Linked DNA regions of Homo sapiens: regions 1, 2, 3 and 5 are each linked to region 4. Evidence: fine-mapped expression QTL. A gene starts in region 4. Each other region holds a variant in brackets. All regions are shown on one strand. Distances are from middle to middle.

Evidence for each region. PIP is the estimated chance that this variant, and not a neighbour inherited with it, causes the effect.
Region 1: its variant is fine-mapped to the expression of ALOX5 in whole blood (INTERVAL, PIP above 0.99).
Region 2: its variant is fine-mapped to the expression of ALOX5 in whole blood (INTERVAL, PIP above 0.99). The same link has a PIP of 0.9 or more in monocytes.
Region 3: its variant is fine-mapped to the expression of ALOX5 in whole blood (TOPMed, PIP above 0.99).
Region 5: its variant is fine-mapped to the expression of ALOX5 in whole blood (INTERVAL, PIP above 0.99).

Annotation. Positions count from the first base shown.
Region 1 is chr10:45,441,606-45,445,605 of GRCh38, reverse strand. It overlaps ALOX5 (arachidonate 5-lipoxygenase), which reads right to left. Exons shown (of 14, transcript NM_000698.5): 10 at 2,390-2,568; 11 at 2,069-2,190; 12 at 1,778-1,878; 13 at 1,320-1,490; 14 at 1-98. LOC102724323 (a long non-coding RNA gene) reads left to right here. Exons shown (of 3, transcript NR_120674.1): 3 at 754-1,038. Among named protein-coding and RNA genes, the nearest start is that of ALOX5, 69 kb to the right of the region's middle. RefSeq lists enhancers at 1,897-2,665, 2,666-3,436 and a silencer at 3,793-4,000. The variant C/T (reference allele first, on the strand shown) is at 2,362.
Region 2 is chr10:45,673,001-45,677,929 of GRCh38, reverse strand. No RefSeq gene overlaps it. Among named protein-coding and RNA genes, the nearest start is that of ZFAND4, 2.7 kb to the right of the region's middle. RefSeq lists a silencer at 4,856-4,929. The variant CCCA/A (reference allele first, on the strand shown) is at 2,300.
Region 3 is chr10:45,417,650-45,421,649 of GRCh38, reverse strand. The region is part of intron 4 of ALOX5 (arachidonate 5-lipoxygenase); the gene reads right to left. Among named protein-coding and RNA genes, the nearest start is that of ALOX5, 45 kb to the right of the region's middle. RefSeq lists enhancers at 796-1,297, 1,326-2,017, 2,018-2,711. The variant C/T (reference allele first, on the strand shown) is at 2,354.
Region 4 is chr10:45,371,766-45,376,649 of GRCh38, reverse strand. It overlaps ALOX5 (arachidonate 5-lipoxygenase), which reads right to left and starts at 2,434. Exons shown (of 14, transcript NM_000698.5): 1 at 2,221-2,434. The coding sequence starts at 2,370. RefSeq lists enhancers at 1,447-2,055, 2,056-2,666.
Region 5 is chr10:45,516,916-45,521,844 of GRCh38, reverse strand. All of the region lies in intron 2 of MARCHF8 (membrane associated ring-CH-type finger 8), which reads left to right. Among named protein-coding and RNA genes, the nearest start is that of MARCHF8, 16 kb to the left of the region's middle. The variant C/T (reference allele first, on the strand shown) is at 1,975.

The sequences.
Region 1 (4,000 bases), 69 kb before region 4:
ACGCTGACAATGGCCTCGAGGTTCTTGCGGAATCGGGCCATGGCTTCCTTCACAGGCTTCTCGATAAAATGCTCTTCTGGGTACATGCCCAGGAACAGCTGAGGGCCCAGACATGGACACACACATAGGTCAATCCACTACCCGTGTAAACTGACAGGCCTGTCTCATCCCAAGGGGCCAGCCACCGTTTGGGAGATGAAGGAGGGAGCATCTATTCACCTCCCCATATTCACCCTCTGCTGCCTGACAAGAGGGCCTCGGGAAGGCAAGTGTCGTCGCCTCCAACCTGCTTCTCTAAGGAAGGCTCCAGGGCTGGGGCTTCATGGATAAGTGGGAAAATAACTGCCTGCTGCCAAGTGGTTACGAGATGATGCAGATGAAGCTGGGGGCTGCTGGTGTTTGCAGCCATGGTATCCTGCTGTCTTGGGCCACCCCTGCGCAGCACTCTCACCTCCCATCAGGGGCGCTGGGGCCAGCACTGGCCTCTCCAGCCCAGGAAGGCAGAAAGCGGGCCAGGGAGCCTGAAGGGGTGGCTGCCCTGTTGGGGTCCTGTGCTTATTTGCATTCTCACACAGATGTCTGCGGGGCAGAGCTAGATATCATTTTAAAAAAATACTGTATTGGATTAAGATCACAAAGCTTCTGAGCTGGAAAGGTCCAAGAAACATAGGCTATTGATAATGGGATTTTGAATTTAGTTTGTGGAGGGCAATTCAGTATCAATATTCTTTGACCAAGGAATTTGTCTGCTAGGAATGTGTGCGGTCATACTGAACACATGTGCAAAGCCACAAAAACAAGGATGTCCAGTGAGGGACCAACACATTGGCCGGGAACAACTCAGACACCCAGCAGTCTGGAGCAGGTTGGACTGGTCCGGCCATTCTATGCAGTACTGAGCTACCCCAAAGCGGGTGCATCCACGAAGACACACCGGATTCAGTTGTTAGGTTAAATGAGATGCACGTGTCCGGAAGGAACCCAGGAAACTCTTGGTCATTCCCTCTGGAGTACCAGGGTAAAACACATGTGCAAGAACTTTGTCAATAGCTGGGGGGAGGGGGCGTCACACACGACCCTCTGGTGACAGTGAGCAAAGCCTGGGCTGTGTGCTCTCCTGCCCTGCACACCCTGAGCTCTGTCCAGGCTGAGGCCGGGGGACCTGGTGGCGGCTGCAGCCTTCTGGGCCCTTCCAGCCTTGGAAGTCAGGATTCCTTTGCTCCAAGTGAGCCTTGGGGCCCGAGTCACAAAGCCCTGAGGCTGAGGAACCGCTTAACCTGGGGTGACCTGGGGCTGTGCCCCGCCCTGCCCAGCTTCACCTCGTTTTCCTGGAACTGGCTCAGCGCCCACACTGCACCCAGATGCCAGCAGGAGCGGCCGCGGTCGGGCAGCGTGTCCACGATCTGCTCAATGGTCACCACGCCCTTGGCAGTCGGTGGCGGGGCTCGCATGGTTGGGGGCGCATTGGGGATCCAGGAGCACCAGTCGTACTGCGGAGACGACCGCCAGCAAGCGTGGGCACCCCCGAAGCCCTGCTGCCCAGCTGCCCCCTGGGCCCCGTCCTCCCCGTGCCCCCCAACTCCAGCGGGCCCTGCAGTCCGTCCATCCTCTTTCCCCGCGGCCAGCGCCCTTGGCTGAGCGGGCAGAATCCATCCTGCAAGTCCCGTGCCAGGCCCCGAGGCTGTCCGAGGGTGCAGTACGCGTGCAGAACCGGGGCGGGGGAGGAGGCAGCGGCCTTGAGAAGGGAGCCCTGCCCAGCGGGCCCGGCCCTGCCTACCTGGCCGAAGTTGACCGCGGCGTGCTGGGCGGAGGCGGTGAAGATCACCACGGTCAGGTACTCCGACAGCTGCTCCCGGCTCTTGACCGACTTGGGGAAGCCTAGGGTGGAACCACCGGCGGGCTGAGGCCCAGTCCCTGAGGACCCCAGGGCCCGGCGCCCACCCCGTGCCCGGATTCCCTGCCCCAAGGCCGGAGGGCACCCTGGGCAGGACACCCCGGAGGGGTGGCGGAGGGGCCAGCGCTGCCGACTGCGGGGGAGCCGGGTCCGGAGACGTCCCGGAGGCCCTACCTGAGGACTTGCGGCCCCGCATGCCGTACACGTAGACATCGTTCACGAAGTCCTGCAGCTCCGGGTCCTCCTCCACCACCTGGTCGCCCTCGTAGTAGATGTCTACCACCTCGGCCGTGAACCTGGCTCAGGGGGCGCAGCCGGGGTGGGCGACCCAGCCAGGTCTGCGGAGCGGTGCCCGGCGGCAACCCCCTCACGGACGCTGGGACTCCCCCACCCCGTCCCCATTCAGCGCTAGCGGTGGAGGGGCCAGGCCCGCCCCAGGTAGTCAGGCAGGGGTCCCGGCTCCTCCC[C/T]CAGGACCACCGCCCCGCGGGCGCTCACGTCCTGATGGCTTCCCACACCAGGAGCCCGTCGTCCCGGTAGAAGTAGTAGGGGATGTCTTCTTTGCTCTCCATGCCCCGGGCCTTGATGGCCTCGGGAAAGCACAGGGAGGCATAGGTCAGGTCCTTCATGGCCCTCTGCACCATCTGCACGTGCCCACCGCCCCCTGTGGCGTTGGCCTGGAGTGGGAGGTAGAGTGCCCTGAGCGGGTGGCTCCTCCCACAGCTGTCCAGACCCATCCCTGAGGAAATGTGCCAGGGGAGGCGAGGAGGCCAGGCAGGCAGAGGTGCAAGCCCTTGTCCTGTGAGATGGGGGAGGGATGTTTAACGCAGAGAATGACAAGGGCAGCCGGGTGGAGAGGTGCTAGGGAGGAGCCTCCCGCCCAATCCAATGCAAGGGACTGAACCGTGGGGCTGCAGAGTACAAGAGGGAAGGGTGCGCTCCCAGCCACAGGAGGGCAGCAGGCGTGGGCAGGTGTGTGGGGGACCCCAGCACCAGCGGGCCTGGGCTGTGAAGTCTGCTCTAGTGCTGAGCACACGACCCTCAGTCATTGCTCTCAGTGACCCTCAGTTTCCAGGACCCATGCAACTCTGTTGAGGGCCTGTTGTGTGCTCAGGTGAGGGCTGGAGAGACCCACAAGGAGGGATCCTGGTCCTGATCCCGATCCCGGCTTCTGAGTGATGCAGACACACTCACAAGCTCACTGGCACATATGTGTGTCCACGTGCACACACACACATGCAAATACACCCAGGGGGCTGGGCTGTCGGTGCCACAGAGGTTTTGAAGAAGGACTTGGGTGCTGGGGTGCCAGAGATTGGTCCACGGTGGGCATTCAGCCCAAGCAGGACCAACCAGAGCTGCCCCCCAGCACTTTCTGTTTAGATGCGGCTGGGAGATAATGGCCACATGAGAACCTGAGGTGGAGCTACTATGATGAGCTCCTGTGCCCTCTCCCATGGGGGCCTGTCTGCAGCAGGAGAGTGTGATGCCAACACAGGTGAAAGAGACAGAAAGAGGGAGCCAGTGTGCATGCACCCTGGGGCATTGCTTGAGTCCCTGGATCCATTTCTGGCTGAGGCCCCCGACCCTCTATTGTGTCCAGGTATTTGAGATAAGGCATGTCTTGTCCAGCTGCAGCTGGTTTGAGTTGGGTTTTGTCATTTGCAGCCCAAACAGTGTCTCAACTTCAGTGGTCATCTGGCCTGGTCACTAATGGGCTGGGGAAAGGAGGAAGGTTGGGGCAAGGGCCCATGTGAGAGTCCAAGCTTGGTAAGGCTACAGAGGGCTCAAAACGAGGTGGGGTGCTACCTGAGGGATGCGAGGGCTGGGCAGGGCCTGGAGTCCCCGATGCAGGAGACAGTGGGTTGGGAGGGTTGGGACCCGGGAAGCAGAGTGCTGGGGAGGTCCAGGTCAGGGTGGCAGGGGTGTGGCAGATTAAGAGGCAGACACAGGTTCCTGGTGCGTAGGAGGTCAGGGGGCCATAAGGAGTGTGTTCCAGAGGGGGGTCTACACCCAGGTCCCAGAGGCTGGGAGAGGGGAGGGGTGGGAGGAGGGGACCAGGAGCCATCAGTGAGAAGGAAGACCTGGTGGTGCGCCTGGAGGAGTGCT
Region 2 (4,929 bases), 300 kb before region 4:
TGCCTCCACCTCCTTCTCCATAAAATGGAAACCTAACTTGTCCCTCTCCAAGCTCTGAAATGCTGAAACTTACCAACTCCCTTTTCTCCCCGCTATTTCTTCCTTCCGTGGCAGGGACTTTCAGGTTTTCTTTCTTTTACTAACAAGGCACTAAGCATGATTTTCTCATACAAAATCGAGAGCCATAAAGTGGCTTACCACAGTCCTATTTCAATAAAGATGAATACTCGACATCTGGCAAGTAGTGTGTGCCTGACACTGTGCTATGCTCATTTAACCCTCAGAAACAATGTCATTTTACAGATTTTACTGAAGGAGTTGAGATGGAGAAGGTAAGTAACCTCCCCAAGGTCACATGGCTGCTAAGGTTGGGGCCACAATTTGATCCCAGGTAGTCTGAATTCCCCAATTCCTGAAGCATGATTATCGGAAAGCACATTAGTCTGTTTCACACTGATATAAAGAAATACCTGAGGTTGGATAATTTATAAAGGAAACAGGTTTAATTGATTCACAGTTTCGCATGGCTGGGTAGGCTTCAGGAAACTTACAATCATGGCAGAAGGGGAACCAGGTCCGACTTACATGGTGGCCGCACAGAGAGTGGGAACATGTGAAGGAGCAACTGTCAAACATGTGTAAAACCATCAGATCTCAGCTGGGCTTGGTGGCTCACACTTGTAACCCTGGTACTTTGGGAGGCCAAAGCAGGTGGATCAACTGAGGTCAGGAGTTCGAGACCAGCCTAGCTAACTTAGTGAAATCCCGTCTCTACTAAAAATACAAAAATTAGCTGGGTGTGGTGGCGCATGCCCGTAATCCCAGCTACTCAGGAGGCTGAGGCAGGAGAATCACTGGAACCCAGGAGGCAGAGGCTGCAGTGAGCCAAGATCGCGCCATGGTACTGCAGTCTGGGTGACAGAGCAAGACTCCATCCAAAAAACAAAACAAAACAAAACCCTATAAGATCTCATGAGGACTTACTGAATATCACAAGAACAGCATGAGGATAACTGCCCCCGTGATCCAATCACCTCCCCCTAGGCCCCTCCCTCGACACATCAGGATTATGGGGATTATAATTCATGATGAGATGTGGGTGGGGGGACATGGCAAAACCATATCAGAAAGTAAAGGTAGAAGTCAAGCTTGAACAGGAAATGACATTGTAGATTACTATTTTTTTTTTCTTTTTTTTTGAGATGAAGTTTTGCTCTTGTTGCCCAATGAAGTTGTTTTTCTAATTTCATTTTCAGATTGTGTCTTGCAGATGTGTAGAAATACAATTGATAAATGATTCTGGCTATTAACCTTTGATGCTTCAACCTTGCTGAACATGTTTTTTTTTTTTTTTTTTTGAGACGGAGTTTAGCTCTTGTTGCCCAGACTGGTGGCATGATCTTGGCTCACCACAACCTCCGCCTCCCGGGCTCAAGAGATTCTTCTGCCTCAGCCTCCCTAGTAGCTGGGATTACAGGTATGTGCCACCATGCCCGGCTAATTTTGTATTTTTAGTAGAGATAGGGTTTCTCCATGTTGGTCAGGCTGGTCTCGAACTCCCGACCTCAGGTTATCCGTCCACCTCGGCCTCCTAAAGTGCTGGGATTACAGGCATGAGCCACCGTGCCCGGCCAAATCTGCTTATTTTTAAGCTTTTTGATGCTTTTCTGTTTTGTTTCAGTTTTTTTTCCTATTTATTAATACAAGTTCTTTAGGTATTTTGGATAATTGTTAAAAAGCTTTTTAATTTGTTCATTGGTTTCTTTGCTGTGAAGGTTTTCAATTTGGCATTGTCCCATGTTTAGTTTGGCTTTTCATGTCTCCACTTTTGTGACATATTCTGTAAATTATTGTCAAGATCAATACCTAGAAACTTCTAGACAAAAACCTAAAAGAAAAGTTTTCTCATTTCAGGTCTTACACTTAAATGTTGTTTTTTGATTTTTTTTTTTTTGGAGACAGAGTCTCGCTCTGTTGCCCAGGCTGGAGTGCAGTGGTGCGATCTCGACTCACTGCAGCCTTCGCCTCCCGGGTTCAAGTGATTCTCCTGCCTTAGCCTCCTGAGTAGCTGGGACTATAGGCACGCGCTACCACGCCCAGCTAATTTTTGTGCTTTTAGTAGAGACAGGGTTTTGCCATGTTGGCCAGGATGTTCTCGACCTCCTGACCTTGTGATCCACCCGCCTCCGCTTCCCAAAGTGCTGGGATTACAGTCATGAGCCACCACGCTTGGCCACATTTAAATCTTTAATAAATTTTTATTGGATTTTCGTTTGGCAAACTATGCTACCCCCCCCCC[CCCA/A]CTGTCTGATCTTGTTAATAAAGTTTTATTGGAACACAACCACATTCATTGATTTACTTACTTTCTATTGTTGCTTTCACCCTACCTCCAATGTAAGAGTTGAGTAATTATGACGAGACCGGATGGCTCACAGAGCCTCAGATGTTTTCTATCTGCCCCTTTTATTTATTTTTTTGAGACGGAGTCTTGCTCTGTCACCCAGGCTGGAGTGCAGTCATGTGATCTTGGCTCACTGCAACCTCTATTTCCTGGGTTGAAGCGATGCTCCTGCCTCAGCCTCCCGAGTAGCTGGGATTACAGGCGCCTGCCATCACACCCAGCTAATTTTTGTATTTTTAGTAGAGTTGGGGTTTCACCATGTTGGCCAGGTTGGTCTTGAACTCCTGACCTCGTGATCCACCTGCCTCGGCCTCCCAAAGTGCGGGGATAACAGGCGTGAGCCACTGCGCCTGGCCCTGCCCCTTTACATAAACAGTTCGCTGACCATTGCTCTAAGGCATTCTGTTCCATTCTTGCCTTGTGGAAGCAGCAGAATGAACCTAGGTAATAGCCGGGGGAAGTGCTGAGGATAGAAATGTCAGCCTCTAGAGCAGCACTGCCCCATAGAACTCTGCAGGAATGAAAATTTTCTTTATCTGCATCGTCAAAGGCAGTAGCCACTAGCCACCTGGATGGCTGACCCCATTCTAGTCTGTGTTTTTTGGTGCTCTGTCGTCTTGCTGCTGACTATTCAGCCTGTCACCATGGTGCAGTCTTGTAGGCCGCCCAGGTTGGTCTCAGCGATCCTGGAGCTACTGACTTCTTCCTTGGGCACTGTAAGATCAGACAGGGAATTACTCATACCCAGAGTCAAAGATTTTGTTCAGCTCCCACAGGTCAACCATTTGCCCAAGTCTGCTGTGAGAGTGACGTGATGACAGATGAGGGCACTTGCTAGTTGGCCACTCCTTTCCCCTATTCATTTTATGCATCTTCCTTCTGTCCGTAGGTTATTTGTGCACATAGTTTCTTGCTGTAGTACCCAATGTCGGTCAGAGTCAGCATTTGTTAAATACGATGATTTTCTTTTGGAACAACTAAATCTACTCATCAATCAGTAGGATTGGTTTCAGGGGATTCAGGAGACAACAGGTTTAGAAAATACGCAAGCTGCTATTTTGAGAGGCTTGAAAGGGAGAGAGAACTTACGTTAAAAAAAAGTTCCTATGGTAACAACTTTTAATGCTATTTTATTCAGTCTCCATGGTCTATCAGATAGGTAATGTAGTAACACTAATTTTACAGATAAAGCTAAAATCTGGAAGCAATGTGGAATAATGGAACAAGGTTGGATTTTTGTATTGTGTCCTAGTTTAAATATGGCTTTCCGACATAGAGCTGTTTGATTATAGGTAAATTGTTCTACTTTAATTGGCTTTTGTTTACTCCTTTGTAGACGAGGGATTTCACTACCAACTTTGCAGGATTGTGATGGGGAGAGAATACGTAAAGACCCTTATCAACTATCTGGCACTTGAAGAATGGCAGATGATAATGATGATGATGTTGTAAAGAATGAATGACTTGGCCAGGTAATGGAGCTTCTGGTATTGGGAGGCAAGGCTTTAAACACACCTGCCTGACTCCACGGTCCATGCTGTCAATTCTCCAGTGTGAATGAAGTGGGCAGGCAAGGGTGAGAAACGCTAAGGTTTTTACTCAGTAAGTCTCCATCACAGGCCCTATTCTAGGCTCAGGAATGCAAAGATGATTACCATCATAGCTCTGTCCTCAAAGGTCTCCAATCTATTTAGCATTAAGCATATGTGGAGTTTCAGAAGGAACCAACGGCGAGACTGGTGAATCAATGCCCAGTGCCTCACCATACTCCCCCAGTGTATGCTCAATAGTTCGTTGAACTGTGGAGATAAGTTGGTGGGTAGGGTCTCAGAAGAATGAGAGAGGACAGGAGACACAGATTAGATGTTTAGTTTCATATTAGACTGGCTCCTCTGAGCCAGAAGTCGAGGATGAGTGAACCCGCAGTGGGAGTGAGATGACATTCTTTGTCAGCTGAGTAACCCACTTAGTGAAGGAGGTTCACGGAGTTGGAAAATCGGTAGGGGGAACGGAACGAGGCAGTGGGCTCCCATGTTAGGTTGAAAGGCAGGTGTTGGCTTGAAGCCAGTTACTGTTTACACCGCAGCTCAGCAGCTTGGAAACTGGAGCAGGAGGTGTGGCTGGGCTTACCCAACGCTGGGATTTGAGCCCAGGGTGCCTACTCCATTGCCTGGCCTACAGTTCTCAGTAAATTGTATGAGGACTACAGAAAGTTATCTGTTTTCGCCTTTGTCTTCAAGCAGGCACGGTAATGCCCCCATTTTCCAGATGAGGCAATTGAGGCCAGAAACATTAGGGGACGGTGAAGCCTAAAGCAGATTTGTTAGGACAGGCCGGCCCAAACGCACCAGGAGCGCCCCTCACTCTGGAGAGGCCACCGACTGGACAGCGTCTGCCTGTATCGCCTATCTCCAGCAAATCAGGCGCCTGGAAGAGGATCCCCGGTGGGTCTCACGGAGGGCGGCTCCGGCTTCAACCCCGCCGTTCCCAGCAGGCCATGCGGCTGCCCTCCAGACGCCCGCGTGGGC
Region 3 (4,000 bases), 45 kb before region 4:
GGCACTGGAATACCCAGAGAAGCTTCTTTCAGCCTTGCTGCCTCCTTCCTCCCCCAGCACCCCTCGTCAGCTGAGTGTTCTGGGCTAGGAATGCTTGTCAAGCTGGAGGGGTAAACCTCACTGTAGCATCTGGTGTCAGTCTGGGTGGGGAAAAGAACTTATTTCTGGGAGATGAGAGGCCTACGCAGGCCCCGAGAGCCCTGTAGGGCCTGAAGATGGCCCAGTGCCAGAGGGTGCCCCAGAAAGAGGTCCTGTGCTGGGGCACCTGAGGTCCCGGGTGGTCCCTTGCCCCTGTTCTTTGGAGGAACCAGGAGTGAGTCACCAATTACCCAGCTGGGTCTGTTTGACCTCAAAACAGGAGGTTTACTCTGAAAACAGGGTGGGTCTGGTAGTTCTCAGAAGAAGCCACAGATGTAGGAAGAAGTGGAGTTAGGAGGAACATATTTACATGTCATCTAGAGGCAAAATATTTCTATATCCTTACAGATAACTGGAATATTCAGGGCTTCGAAGACCCGCTTTTGTAAAAAGAAGGACCCTGCAAGCCAGAGAGGGCACCAGGCTTTTTCAAGGCCACACAGGCAGGTAACAGCCACCTTGATCACCTGGCCTAGGGGCAGTGACCTAGCTTTCTCCTGCATCTTCAGCTTTCTCCTGTGCCAAACTGTGGCCCAGGCTGGGCACCAGCTGTTGGCCATGTGCCCGGTGAGCCCCCCACCCCTCGCCCCTACTTCTCCCAGGACGGGCCGCATTTCTGCACTGTCCCGCCTCACTGGGAAGGAAACTCTCTTTCTCAATTTGCTTTAATGAGGCCATTGAGGTTCACCTAACCTCTGTCTCCCTGCTCTTTCCTTCTGCTACCAGCTTTTCCATTTTTTACGCCACAGTTGTGCTGTGCAGGGCAGGAGCAAAGCCTGCTGAGGAGGGCTGGCCCCCTTCCAGGTACAGCAGGTGGCTAGGAGGAACTGCGTGCCAGAATTACTCAGAAGCAGCGGCGAGGAAACCAAGCTGTCGCCAGCCAGAGGTTTAACGGGGAAGGCCTCCTCGGTGACTTCAGCCAAGTTTCAGTTTCCTGCCAGTGGGCACTGAGTTTAACCCACTCTAGGCGGGGAGTGTAGCCATCCAGATTTTAGCAAGGGCCCCAGGGGATTCTGACGCAAGCTATACTTTGAGAACCACTGCTGAAGAGTTTGCAATGTTTTCCAAATTAATTTGACTACAGAACAAATCATTTTTTTGAGGGAAACATGACTTCATGCTTTGTATTAACTCTTGGTCTTATTTTATGATGCATTTTTAACAACATGATGCTACCTTAGCAAATAAAATTGAAATTTTCTAGCCTCGTCTGATTTTTAGATGGGATACCACCCTACATTTTCCAAACAAATTTATTTTACAATGGGACACATCCCTGATTTCATAACAAAATTTAATGAAAGTCAATATGTTTTATAGGCATCAGTTAATAGAAGGGGATTATTTTTTAAATTTCCAAGGATTTCAGAGGCTTTCGGGTAGCATTTGGGAAGTTAAAAGTGGGAGAATCCTACTTGTGTCACAGGAAAAGTGGTTCCTATGAGTGCTTTGGTGACTTGGGGCCAAATGGTTTCTGAGTTGGGATGACGATAAGAGGGGATGTGGTCTTCTTCCCATATACAAACCCACGCTTTGCTTTCCAGTGCCAGGCCAGCAGGCCCCCTCCTCTTCCGGCCTCTCTTTCCTCCGCCATCACTTCTCCCGATCCCCAGCCTGGGTCCTCACCCTTCCTCCTGCTGCTACGTCCCTCCCTTCCTCCACAGGCACCCTGCCCGTCCACTGAGCTCAGGGCCCTTCTCTCCTGGCCTGGCCCCTCCGCAGCCTTCCTTGCCTGGGGGATATCGCTCCTTCCCTACACCCCTGGTGCCTTTTGAAACAGGGTCTCACTCTGCCGCCCAGGCGGGAGTTCAGTGGCGCAGATCACTGCAGCTTCCACCTCCCCGGCTCAAGCGATCCTCCCGCTCGGGAATCCCCGAACACTGGGATTACAGGCGTGAGCCTCCGCACCCACTCCCTACCGATCATCCCCCTTCAGGACGCTGCCATCCATGTAGCTGGGTCGTCTGGAGCACGGGGCATGTGGCTGGCCTGCGGGGCTGGGGGAGGGCCGGTGGGAGTGGCTGCCCTCAGAGCCCACCCCCTAGGCCTCTGCCTGCCCCCAGGTTCCCTCTCCCCCGTCCCTTGTCGGGAGTCACTCGTCAGCTTCTCTTCTCAGCCCGGCTGCGCAGCGCTCTCAACCCAACCCCTGGACTCATCTTCGCCCCAGCCTCCTTCGTGCCCAGCGTCCCTTGTAAATGACCCCCCCGGCCGGGTG[C/T]CCCGCTTTCTCTCTCGGCCTCTTCCGCGTGGTCTGCTCTCCGCCCGCCTGCGCTCGCCCGGCCTCCCTGCCTCTGCGCCTTCACCTGACCGCAAAGGCGGCCAGGGCAGCCTCCGCGCGGCCTGACAGTCACGGCTCCCAGTTTGTCCCTGGACGTGGGAAACTCGGGCTCATAGCGCCTCTACGTACACTGCGGCACAGACTGGCGTTTCCTACGGCGCCTTCACTGGAAAGCGCCCCTGTGGTCCTGGGGAGAGGGCGGCTCCATCCGCCACCCTTCCCGGAGCTGCCCCCGCCCATTCTCATGGGAGGAAATCGCAGGGCGTGTGAGCCCCCGACCCCTCGCCCCCACCTCTTCCAGGACCGGCCGCATTTCTGCACTGTCCCGCCCCACTGGGAAGGAAACTCTCTTTCTCAATTTCCTTTAATGAGGACATTGTCTTTTCAGCCCTGCCACCCCCTGCAATCGTCTTCCAGGCTGCAAACAGCGAGTGGGGAGGTGAACACATCAGCTTTTCCTCCCTCCACACCACCAGGAAATTTCGCAAACCACTTGGCTCTCGGCGGCCTGGCCTCGCCACACCTGTGCCCACAGTCTCTCTCCGCTGCAGCCCCCTGTGCCATTCTCCAGGCCCCACGTACCTCTGCCTGGGCCCAGTAAGACCTGGTCAGATGGCCCCCGGCTGCAAAGCCTTCCTGGGCCCCATCAGAGAGGACGCCCAGGTGAAGCGAGGGTCCCCTGCCCACCCTGCAAGCGCAGGGGCCCTTCCAAGAGTGCAGCCCTAGGCCGGTGTGTGATGGTGGAGACGCGGTCCCAGAGGGCCTGAACCAAGAATGGAGAAGACAAAGGCTGTCTTTAGGGAGAAACTTCCCTGAGGGGCTGATGTGTGCGATCCCATTTTAATCTCACAACCCTGGGGAGGAGCTGGGGCCGGGTCTCATTGTTCATTTGAGGACACCGAGGCTCAGGGAACTTAGACGACTTTCCTAGGGTCCCCCCAACCCCCACCGGCCCAGGGCCCTCTCCCAGGCACCCCTCATCCCCACACAGGCTCCTCTAAGCTGCTTCCTTGTGGTCCAGCCCCCTTGGCTCAGCTCCTCAAATACAGGGACACCTCTTCTCTCCCCCGCAGAACTCAAGGGTCTCCATCCACTGTGCCAGCACAGAGGCGGTGCTCAGAGTGGGGCTAAGCTTACTGTCCAGCCTGCTGGGCCAGGAGGGGCAGAAGGGCCCCTCTCAGGATTCCTTCGCTCTGCTCCTGCCAATAGGCCATCACTCAAGGGGCTAATGACAGGACGATGTGGAGAAACGTGGGCTGCAGCACTTCTGGGGCCAAGGGCAGGGTGGGCGGCACTGGGGAGTACAGGGGAGGGGACCTCACTGGGGCCAGAGGCTTCTAGAAGCTTCTGCAAGAAGGGGCCCCTCACCCATGTCTTGGCCAAGAAGTGGGGAGGGTGGGTGTGGCAAAGGAAACAGCTAGGTCAGAGACAAGAGATGCTCTGCAAAGCCCTGCTGGCTCCCCACGGTGGAGCATCCTATGCATGTAGGACCTGAGAGATGGCAGGGGCGGGTGCGTCCCTATGGATGTATCTCCATTTCTGGGCAGAGACATCTGGGCTCTCACCTGCAATTGAGCCAACCAAGAA
Region 4 (4,884 bases):
TACCTTTATTGTTATTGTTATCGTTACTACTGTTAACAATACAGATTTTAACACTTTTCCCTGTAAAATGGGATAACCTTGTCTTCTCAGCAAGTACTTCCTCTAGGGTTTCTCTTTTACCTTTACCCAAAAAGGATGATTGTCTTTACAGATACCAAGCTGGGAGAATGAGGAAGTAGTTCTGGGCTGGGCAAGAGAAAGTGTTGAGTAACTTTGCATCAACAGGAACTTTCTCAAAAGCTGATTTTTTCAAGGAAACTTTCAGCCTTAGCTGGTTCCCCACCCTGCGGTAGCCCCCACCCCCAACCACCCCCCGCCCCACCCCTGACTTATAGCCCTCTCAACCCAATGGAAATGTGACATGCAAATCTCTCCTGAAATTTGCCCCTGGGATTCCGGCTGAGGTGTTTAATTATAATGTCATTTGAATGACTTCTCAGGGTAGGGGAAGACAGACCGAGAGAGGGAGATAGTGGACAAAACAGTGCCTTCACTCTTTGTCCGAAGAGCCCGCTATGGCCACGTTATCATGTCCCCTGCAGGAGGAAAGCACACACGGGGTGCCCGTGCTGTGCAGTGTGAGCACACCAATGGCCTGTGCTTCTAGAACCTTATGATGTGTGGAGGAGAATGGGGAGGAGGAAGCACTTACAAAGGGGAAGTAGCCTGTACCCTGTCCTTCTCCCCCAGGTGTGGGGAATCCATGAAATAATGGAAGTAAATGAAGGTGCGTCAGAAATGGCAGAGGGTGCCATCACCCTAAATGGACGACACATTAACTCCAGGGCACCGCAGTCCTCAGGGTCAGTTCCCCGACTGGGGCAACTAAGCAACTGAAGGTTGCTCTTGTACTCAACACCTAACTCTTCTTGAAGGGAGCTCAAGCCAGGATGCTAGTGAACTTGGCTGAGGGCCATGTCGTGCTACAGCGAGGGTATGGGCTCCTGGATAGGAATCGAGCCCATGGAGAGCTTGGAATCCAGAAAAAGAGTAGTTTTTACTTACTTTAGGCTCTGCACACCTAAAACACAAATTTTATCCAAGAGTAATCAGTTGAAACATGAACTTGCCGGTTGTATTTGTCCATTATGAGCAATTTCACAAGGTTTGATCAAATAATAAACTAAATGGTGAGAAGGCAGCTTGGTAAAGTCTAAATCTTTTTGGTCCAGTTAGGAGCTGGGGTGGGGTGGAAGGGAACTGATATTCCCTGCGCACCTGCAGTATGTCTGGGACTATTACCAGTCATTTACGGAGCGCTTCCTCTGTGCCAGGTACTGGATTAGGCACTTCATTAAAGGCTCAGTGAGAACTGCGACCTGCCCATGCTCATGGAAAAGAGTCGTGGGGCTGGAATTCAGGTCCAGATCAGCATTAGGAACTAGCTTCCAAATGCTGAGGGCTCCCTCGCGTCCTCACACCTAGCGTGGAAGTGTTCCCTGGTGTACATTCTGCTGGGAGGGAGTGCAGCCCCTCCATTTAGGAAAAGCCTCTCCTGGCCTGGGTTCTGTTCCTTCCCTTTAATTTCCTCTGGGGACTGTCCTGAGAATGTAAGCTGCCCAGGTGCCGTCTGAGCCACCAGATGGGCCTGGGCTCACCCATGACTCATGGACCAGACTGAAGCCAACCCTCCATTTTCAGCTGGGGAAACTGAGGCCCAGACAGACGGTAGAGTGAGCTGGTGGTCATGTCTGGACAGAACTCAGGCCTCTGGACCCGCTGACGTGCACCCTTCCCCACGGCTCACAGCTGGCTGCTCCGAGGTGCCCTCAGAGTTCTGTGAGCATGACTCATCTGCCTCTCCCTCCCTGTGCGACCTGCAGAAGGAGCCTAAGGAAGAGGTGGCACAAGAAACGCGGCCCAGTGAAGGGGGCTCCGGAGCCTCGGAGCCCAGATCTTGAAGTGGAGGGGAAACCTTGGGCCTTCTCCTCCCAGGGAAGACGCCTTGCAGGCGGCACGCGGGAAGTCTCCGTTTCCGACAGGGGTCGCGGCCGCCGCGAGGGGTCCTGGACGCTTGCCCACCAGGGTACCCACCGGCCACTGGGAGCCCAGGGCACGCCCCACCGCAGTTCTGCCCTCCCTGACAGGGTCCTGGACACCCCCAGTCCTGTCCGGGCCGCCCCGACGGGCCCTCGGCGCCCCCGCCCAGGCCTCTGCCGTCCAAACCGGGTCCCGGACGCACCTCAGCCCGCGCTCCACCCGTGCCCCGCCCGCGCTCACCGCGCCACGCTCGAAGTCGTTGTAGAAGGGCTTGTCCAGCAGGTGCTTCTCGCTGCAGCCCGCCGAGCCCACGAGGCTGAGGTAGATGTAGTCGTCAGTGCCGGCGAACCACTGGCTGCCAGTGGCCACGGTGACCGTGTAGGAGGGCATGGCGCGGGCCGCGGGAGCAGCGAGCGCCGGGAGCCTCGGCGCGGCGGTCCAGGTGTCCGCATCTAGCGCCGCAGCCTCCTCCCACCACTGGTCCCTGGCCCCGGTCCCGGCCCCGCCCCGGTCTGGCTCCAGGCTCCCGGCTGCCCCCGCCCCCGCCCCCGCCCCCGCCCCCGCCCCCGCAGTACTTCTCTCCCACTCTTCACGCGGCGCCGACTGGGCGGGACCTCGCCTCGGGCGGGGCAGGGGCCTCGCTCCTGGGTCTCTCCTCAGCGAGGTGTCTGTTCCTGCAGCCAGGGGACTGGGGCAACCTCGGCTGCCACCCCTCATCCATTCGTTCACTCGTTCTCTCCTGAATTGCTTCCACCCTTTGCCCTGCCTGCCTGCCTCGGCTTCGCCCAAGGCCAGGCTCCTGTAGGCCCTGGGGTGGAGCTGCGGGGACTCCCTACAAATCTAGGCACAGCCTCTGCTCTCCCCAAGTTCTCAGTGCCACTTGCGGTACTTGGAGCAGGGGTGCTCCGGGAGTCTGCAGAGGAAGAGCGACCCATGAGAGAATCAGAAGGGCTTCCTGGAGGAGGCCACCCCAGCGCTGATACTGAGGATGGATTCTGGAGCACAGAGGCTCCTTCAGCGCGGGCTTCTTCACTGGCTGGACCTGCGGCTCCTGGCGGGGGCAGGCGGGCGCCGAGACCGCGCCCAGGCCCAGAGATGGCCAGTGGTCGCGGGAGGCAGGCGGGACGGCACATCTGGACATGCGGGGCTGTCTAGGGGAGGCCAGGGGTCACGGGTCGGCTCTCTGAATCGCGGCGGGCAAATGCCTGGAAGGGTGTGGAGAAGGTTTCGCGCGCTCCTGGGCGGCTTCCCGCGGCTGGGGCCTGACCCCCAGGTTCCCGCCCACTCCTGGCGCCCGCCTCTCCCAGCCCCGCCGGCAGCGCAGGGTCTGACGGGCACACAGTCGCGTGTATTGATCTCGGCTAAGTTTAAACACTAGCTCACCGTGCGTGGGGCGGCGGGGATGTGAAGTCCCCAAAGGCGGCTGCCTACATTCTCACCAACGCTTCATGTCTGTGAAGCAGCAGAGTCCCTGTAGCATCTCCTCATACTGTCTTGGGTTTGTGCACCTGGCAAATGGCTTTGAACATCTTTTCACATGCTTGTTGGATATCTGTATATTTTTGGAGAGATGTATATTCAGATGCTTGACTCTTTGGAAAACTGGGCTATTTATCTTTTTTATCATTGAATTGCATTATTTATATATCCTGGATAGAAGTCTCTAATCGGATACATGACTTACAGACATTTTTATTGCTTCTGCGGGTTGTGTTTTCACTTTCTTGATGATGTTTGAAGCACAAAAGTATTTAACTTTAAGTCCAATTTCTTTTGTCGCTTGTGATTTTGGGGTCCTATCTGAGAAACCACTGCCTACAATAACATCTTAAAGATTTACTCCTAGGTTTTCCTCTAGGATTATTATAGTTTTAGCTTTTCATTTACATCCGTGACCCATTTTGAGTTAGTTTTTATGCATGGAGCGATAGAAGAATTCAAATTCATTGTGTTGCATGTGCATGTCCGGTTGTCCATGCATCATTTGTTGAATTCATTATTCTTTTCCCATTGCGTTGTCTTGACACCTTATTAAAAAGTAATTCATTATAAACATAACGGTTTATTTCTGGACATTGATTCTAGTCCACTGATCTGTAATGTACATGCTATACAGTGCCACACTGCTTGATTACCGCAGTGCTATAGTAAGTTTTGAAATTGGAAAATGTTAATCCACCAACGCTGTTCTTTATTTTTCAATATTGTTTTGGTTATTCTGGATCCTTTGAGATTCCATATAAATTATAGAATCAGCTTGTCAATTTCAGCCAAAAAGCAAGCTAGGATTTTGATAGGGGTTGAGTTGAAGCTGTAGATCAATTTGGGGAATATTGTCACTTTAACAATATTAAGTCTTCTGATCCATAGAATATGTTTCAGCTTATTTAAATCTTTTCTTTTCTTTTCGACTCTTTGGAGTCTCCCTCTGTTGCCCAGGCTAAAGTGCAGTGGTACAATCTCGGCACACTGCAACCTCTGCTTCCCAGGTTCAAGTGATCCATTTACTTAAATCTTTTCTGATTTATTTCAAAATATTTTGTAGTTTTCAGTGCACTTTTTATTTCTAAATAATTTATGTTTGATACTATTGTAAATGGAATTTTAATTCATTTTGAGATTGTTAATTGCTAGTATATAGAAAAACACTTGATTTTTGTACATTCATTTTATATTCTGCAAACTTGCTGAACTTGTTTATTAGTTCTAATGGTTTGTGTGTGTGTACATGTGCACATTTTCTATATGCAAGATCATGTCATGAGCGAGTAGAGATAGTTTTACTTCTTCTTTTATTTGGAAGCCTTTTATTTCTTTTTCAGGGATAATTGCCCTAGCCAGAACCTCAGTACAAGGTCAAATGGAAGTGGCAAAAGCAGGCATCTTTGTCTTGTTCCTGGTTCA
Region 5 (4,929 bases), 150 kb before region 4:
TCTAGGTGAAGGACAGACAGGTATTCATTGTACTATTCTTTTAGCTTTTCTGTAGATTTAAAGTTTTTCAAATCAAAAGTTTTGGGAAATAAAAGATTATGCTTGCCGAAAGTGAGCTGAAGAAAGCGTCGCAGTAGACAATAATAAATAGTAAATTATACGAAATAATTTAAAGGCCAATGGGCAAGTTATCTCACACTTCCTAGGTATTCATATAATTTTAAATCTAATTCCAAATTTTTTGTTATCTTATGTAAACATTGGTTTGCACCATGTCTGGGAGGCACAGGCAGACTTTCCAAAAGGAGCAGAAGCATGGGCAGTTTTAACGACTCCATTTTCAGATCTTTACCTTCCACATACACTTGAGCCTAAAACTGTTCATGCACCCACATTTCTGAGCAGCTAGTTTTCGACTCTGAAGAAGGAAAGGCCCCTACATTTTACTATGTCTCTTAATTTTGCTATGCTGCATTGTTCTAGGGAATAAAAATCAGGTCATCAAACAAAGGAATACTTGGAATTACTGGTTTTGGGTAATCTTTTTTACTGCTTAATCAAATCATGGTATACCTGCCTAGGCAGTTTATCTTTTCCTGTCTTATTCAAGAGGCTTCAAAATGAAGGTATTTGGGCACATTCTGGATTCAGATATATCATAGGTAGATTTATAAAAGTGACTTCATTCCCCATCAATTGTTCTTCAATGAAGAACTTTTGGGGAAAAGACCCTTAAAAGCAAAGCAGAGTGAGTTTCAAGTGATGAAAATAGTTTTCTAAAAAATGTAACGTAATTAAAGATAAGTTGATTATTTTTTTTAGCTGTTCACAGGTTTAGTTGCTACGATGGGTAATTAACTAGAAAGCAATATACCTTTGAACAGCAACTTTTCAAGATATTACAGATAAAGAACAAAGTTAAAAGTATTTTGTGATTTCTTTCAGTTGAAATGTGTATCATTCAACAAAGTAGTTAATGCTTCTTTTTATCAAATCATAGAAAATATTCCAATTATATTTAATCCTCATAAAATATTTTGTATTTTCTATCTCCTAATAAAAAATGTAATTACATTCTTGCTGTCAGACTGATTTGTTTTTAGAAGTACAGTAATTGCAGCAGGTTTTAATCTCACATTGGTATTTGCTTCACGCCCCCTCGTGTGGTAGAATGGAACTTGTAGACTAGGTAAATTCTTAGAACATAAGAAAAGCGCCTGATGGAGTCCCCCAGAAATCTGGTGACTAGCCCAGGCCACAGTTGTACTTGTCACCTGTTTTAGACCCTCGTCCCATTCTAACTCTCAAGACTGACTTTGCTTTACCCTGAACCACACATACCTTTGTACAGTTTATCCTGGCCAGCACTACTTCAGCATTGATTTTTTTCCCCAGTATGAAAGGAACTTAATTTGATATTATTTAGCTTAAATAATGCTGTATACTATGTCAAGTATTCACAGATGGTTTAAATGCTTAAGAATGTTTATTACTGTGAATACTGTTTTTTACTGTATTTAAGTAGGCCAACATATGGTATTTATAAATTGCCTCTATAACATTTATGGATTAAAATTTTTATATTTCGAATAATGGCTAACACTTACATATCATTTACTGTGAGCCAGGCACTGTCCCAAGGACTTTCCATATGTTAACTCACTAAATTGAATCCTTACAGCAACCCTTTGAAGTAGGCATTACTGTTGTGGTCATGATCACTTTATGGATTGATTTGGAAGCTGAGAATCAAAAAGGTTGGGTATGTGATAACTGATGGAGGTGGGATTTGAGTCTTGGGTCACTGCTGCTGAGTGCGTAGTTCTCATCACCTGGGCAGTGAGTGGTGCACTCCAGGTGCTGTTGTCCTCCTCAGGTGAAGGAGAGCTGCTGCTCTTATTTGTTCATGACATTCCCTCTGAGTCACCTGGGCTAGAAACTAGGGAGCTCCTTTTGCCGACTTTGCTCTTAATG[C/T]GCCACTCATCAATAAGTTTTACTGATTCCACCTCTGAAATGTTTTCTTTGTCCTTCCTCTCTGCCCTGGTGCTACTGCTGTATTTCAGGCAGCCGTGTAGGTCAGGGGCTGGCAAATCATAGCCCATGGTCCAAATCCAGCCACTGCTGTTTTTTATGACTTGCCAGCTAAAAACGGTTTTTACATTTTTAAATGGTTGGAGAAAAGTCAAGAGATTAATATTTTACGATGCATGAAAATGATATGAAATCAAAATTTCAGTTTTCATAAATATAGTTTTATTGGAGTAGAGCCATGCTCATTTCCTTGTGACTACTTTTGTCTGACAATGGCAGAATTGAGTAGGTGTAATAGAGAATATGACTTGCAAAGCATAAAATATTTCCTCTCTGGCTCTTTACAGAAAAAGTTTGCTGACCCTTGATCTAGATTATTGCAGTAGTCTACTTACTGACTTCCCAAACCTTCCCTTATGTCTCCTTCCTTTCTGTTCTCATTGTGGATGGATGGGTGGTAGTGGGAGGATACAAGAAACTAGCATCTGTATCTCTGATATGGCGTTTATTTAGTTTTGCCACATAGTCATATCTGTTAGTTGTTTACCTGTTTATCTCATGTAATAGAGTAGGAACTCCTTATTGTACAGATGATACCTTACTCATGAACAAAGGGATGGTATCCACATGATACCCATGCTTGAATGAAGATATATTCAATCCTTTACGAATGGCACTTTAAATTTTTACTCACATATTTTATATTTTCATTTTAAGATCAAATTGAAAAAGACAGCAGTTGGTGAAATCTGTCAGAAGTTTTTTTGTGTGTGTAGACTCCCTTCCAGCATATCTTTTAGAGCTTTTACAAGGTGGTGGGATCCTTGTTACTTCTTTTGTAACACTGACAAAGGAAGTGTTACGAAGGTGTTACTAGGTCCTCTCACAAGTACAGTGGTTTAAAAGCTAAGCCATTTTGATTAGTGTATGATACATGCTTTATTAGAGCCATTCTGGCCAAGAGCAATGATAGGATGCTGGTAGCTTTGGGAATGCTCTTGAAAGTTACAAGAGGGCTCTAGAACCATACCAGTGTCCAGGGGTTACAGTTTGCTGCTGAACTGAGATCAGCAGGATTGGCATTACAGAGATAATGTGGAAACGGATTTCCATTCCACAGGATGCTCCCTTGGGCAATCTGTTAGGAGTTGAGGAAGCTCCTAATATTCTGGAAGGACCAAACATGTACAGTAAAGGTCAGAGCAAACTGGATATCTCGTCTAGAGTATTGGGCAGTGTTTGAGGAGGCAGGTTTTGAAGATCATGGAAAGCAAAAGTTCTTCAGATCAGAGTCTTTAGAGCAGTAGTCTAGGCAGGGAAAATCCATGAATGGGTGAACTGCAGGCAGGTAGGTTGTTGATACTTTCCTGCTGCCTCAAGGACATACCATTGCTGTTGTCTTAAGAGTTCTGAGGTCTTGGTTGTAATGTCAGCAGTGCGAGAATACACATGTCATCAAGCTGCAAACTGCGTTCTGTGTCATCGGAGCTCTCTTTTCTGTACTGATGTGGCACTGTGATGGTAGAATCACAGATACTCAGGGGTCAGTCCAACTTTAATTCAGAGTTCTTCTGAAGGTTGGAAGGACTTGCCTGATAACCATCACCTTGCCTTCATTGATAATTCTTATGAAAGCCTGCCCCTCCATAGTCATCAGGCCTTTTATCTCAGACAACCAAGAGCAACCAGAATTCTTTATGAGACACCTGAGATACGATGTGCACTCATCACCTCTTGTATTAGCTGCCAGGAAGCCTAGTCTCTGAGAGAAGTACCTGATAATGCAAAAAAATTAAGTTTTAACTTAAAATATTCAAGAAACATAGATTGCTAAGATCACGATCATCTTAAAATTGGAGGGTTAGTTTATCACTTACAATTAATAGTGCCTAGCAGTCTCTTATGCTTGTTTGACATTTGTCATGAAAAAACATTGCAAATCCTTGCCTGTGTTATATATTTGTTCACCCAGACATCAGTCTGCTAAGGAGGACATGGAGAATATAGACTTTCATGAAGGTATACAAGAAAATGTGAAGGGCACTGTATTCCAGAGTCTTTTTGTGTGAAGTTTTAGTTATAGCAGTTCTAAGCCCTTATGTTAGGCTGTCTTGTTGCTGTAAAGAAATACCTGAGACTGAGTAATTCATAAAGAGGTTTAATTGCCTCGTGGTTCTGTAGGCTGTACAGGAAGCCTGACACCGGCATCTGTTCAGCTTCTGGTGAGGCCTTGGGCTGCTTACAGAAGGCAGAGGGAGAGTGTTGTCTCATATGGCGAGAGCAGGAGCAAGAGGTCTGGGGAGGTGCCACACATTCTTAAATGACCAGATCTTCTGAGAAATCACTCTATCATGAGGACAGCACCAAGGGGATGGTGGTAAAAACCATTCCTGAGGGATCAGCCCCCATGATCCAGTCGACCTCCCACCAGGTCACACCTCCAACATTGGCAATTAAATTTCAACATGAGATTTGGTGGAGACAAATATCCAAACTATTTTGAGCCCTTCTTAAGAGGTTCTCTTTTTACATTATATTCATATTACTATTCTTGGGATGGGGAATGGAAGGAGGCCCTAAAACATCGGTAGAATTGTTCACGTGTATAGTCCATAAGAAAAGTTTTTAATAACTTGGTTAAGTGCTAGTGGATTCACAACTCTACTGTCAACTAGCTGATACTCCAGGGAAATTTGGTGTCCATGTTTTGACTTCTTGTTGTGCTACTCACCACTGTTGCCACCATTGTGCCAAACTGTCTGTCCTTTTAATTTGCTTTTACAATCCAGTGTTCCCATACATACTGCAGGCCAAAGGGTGAGCCTGGCTGTTAATAAGGAGGTACATACATATATTTTAGCAGAGTGAATAGATTTAGCTGCCTTGGCAGGTGACTGG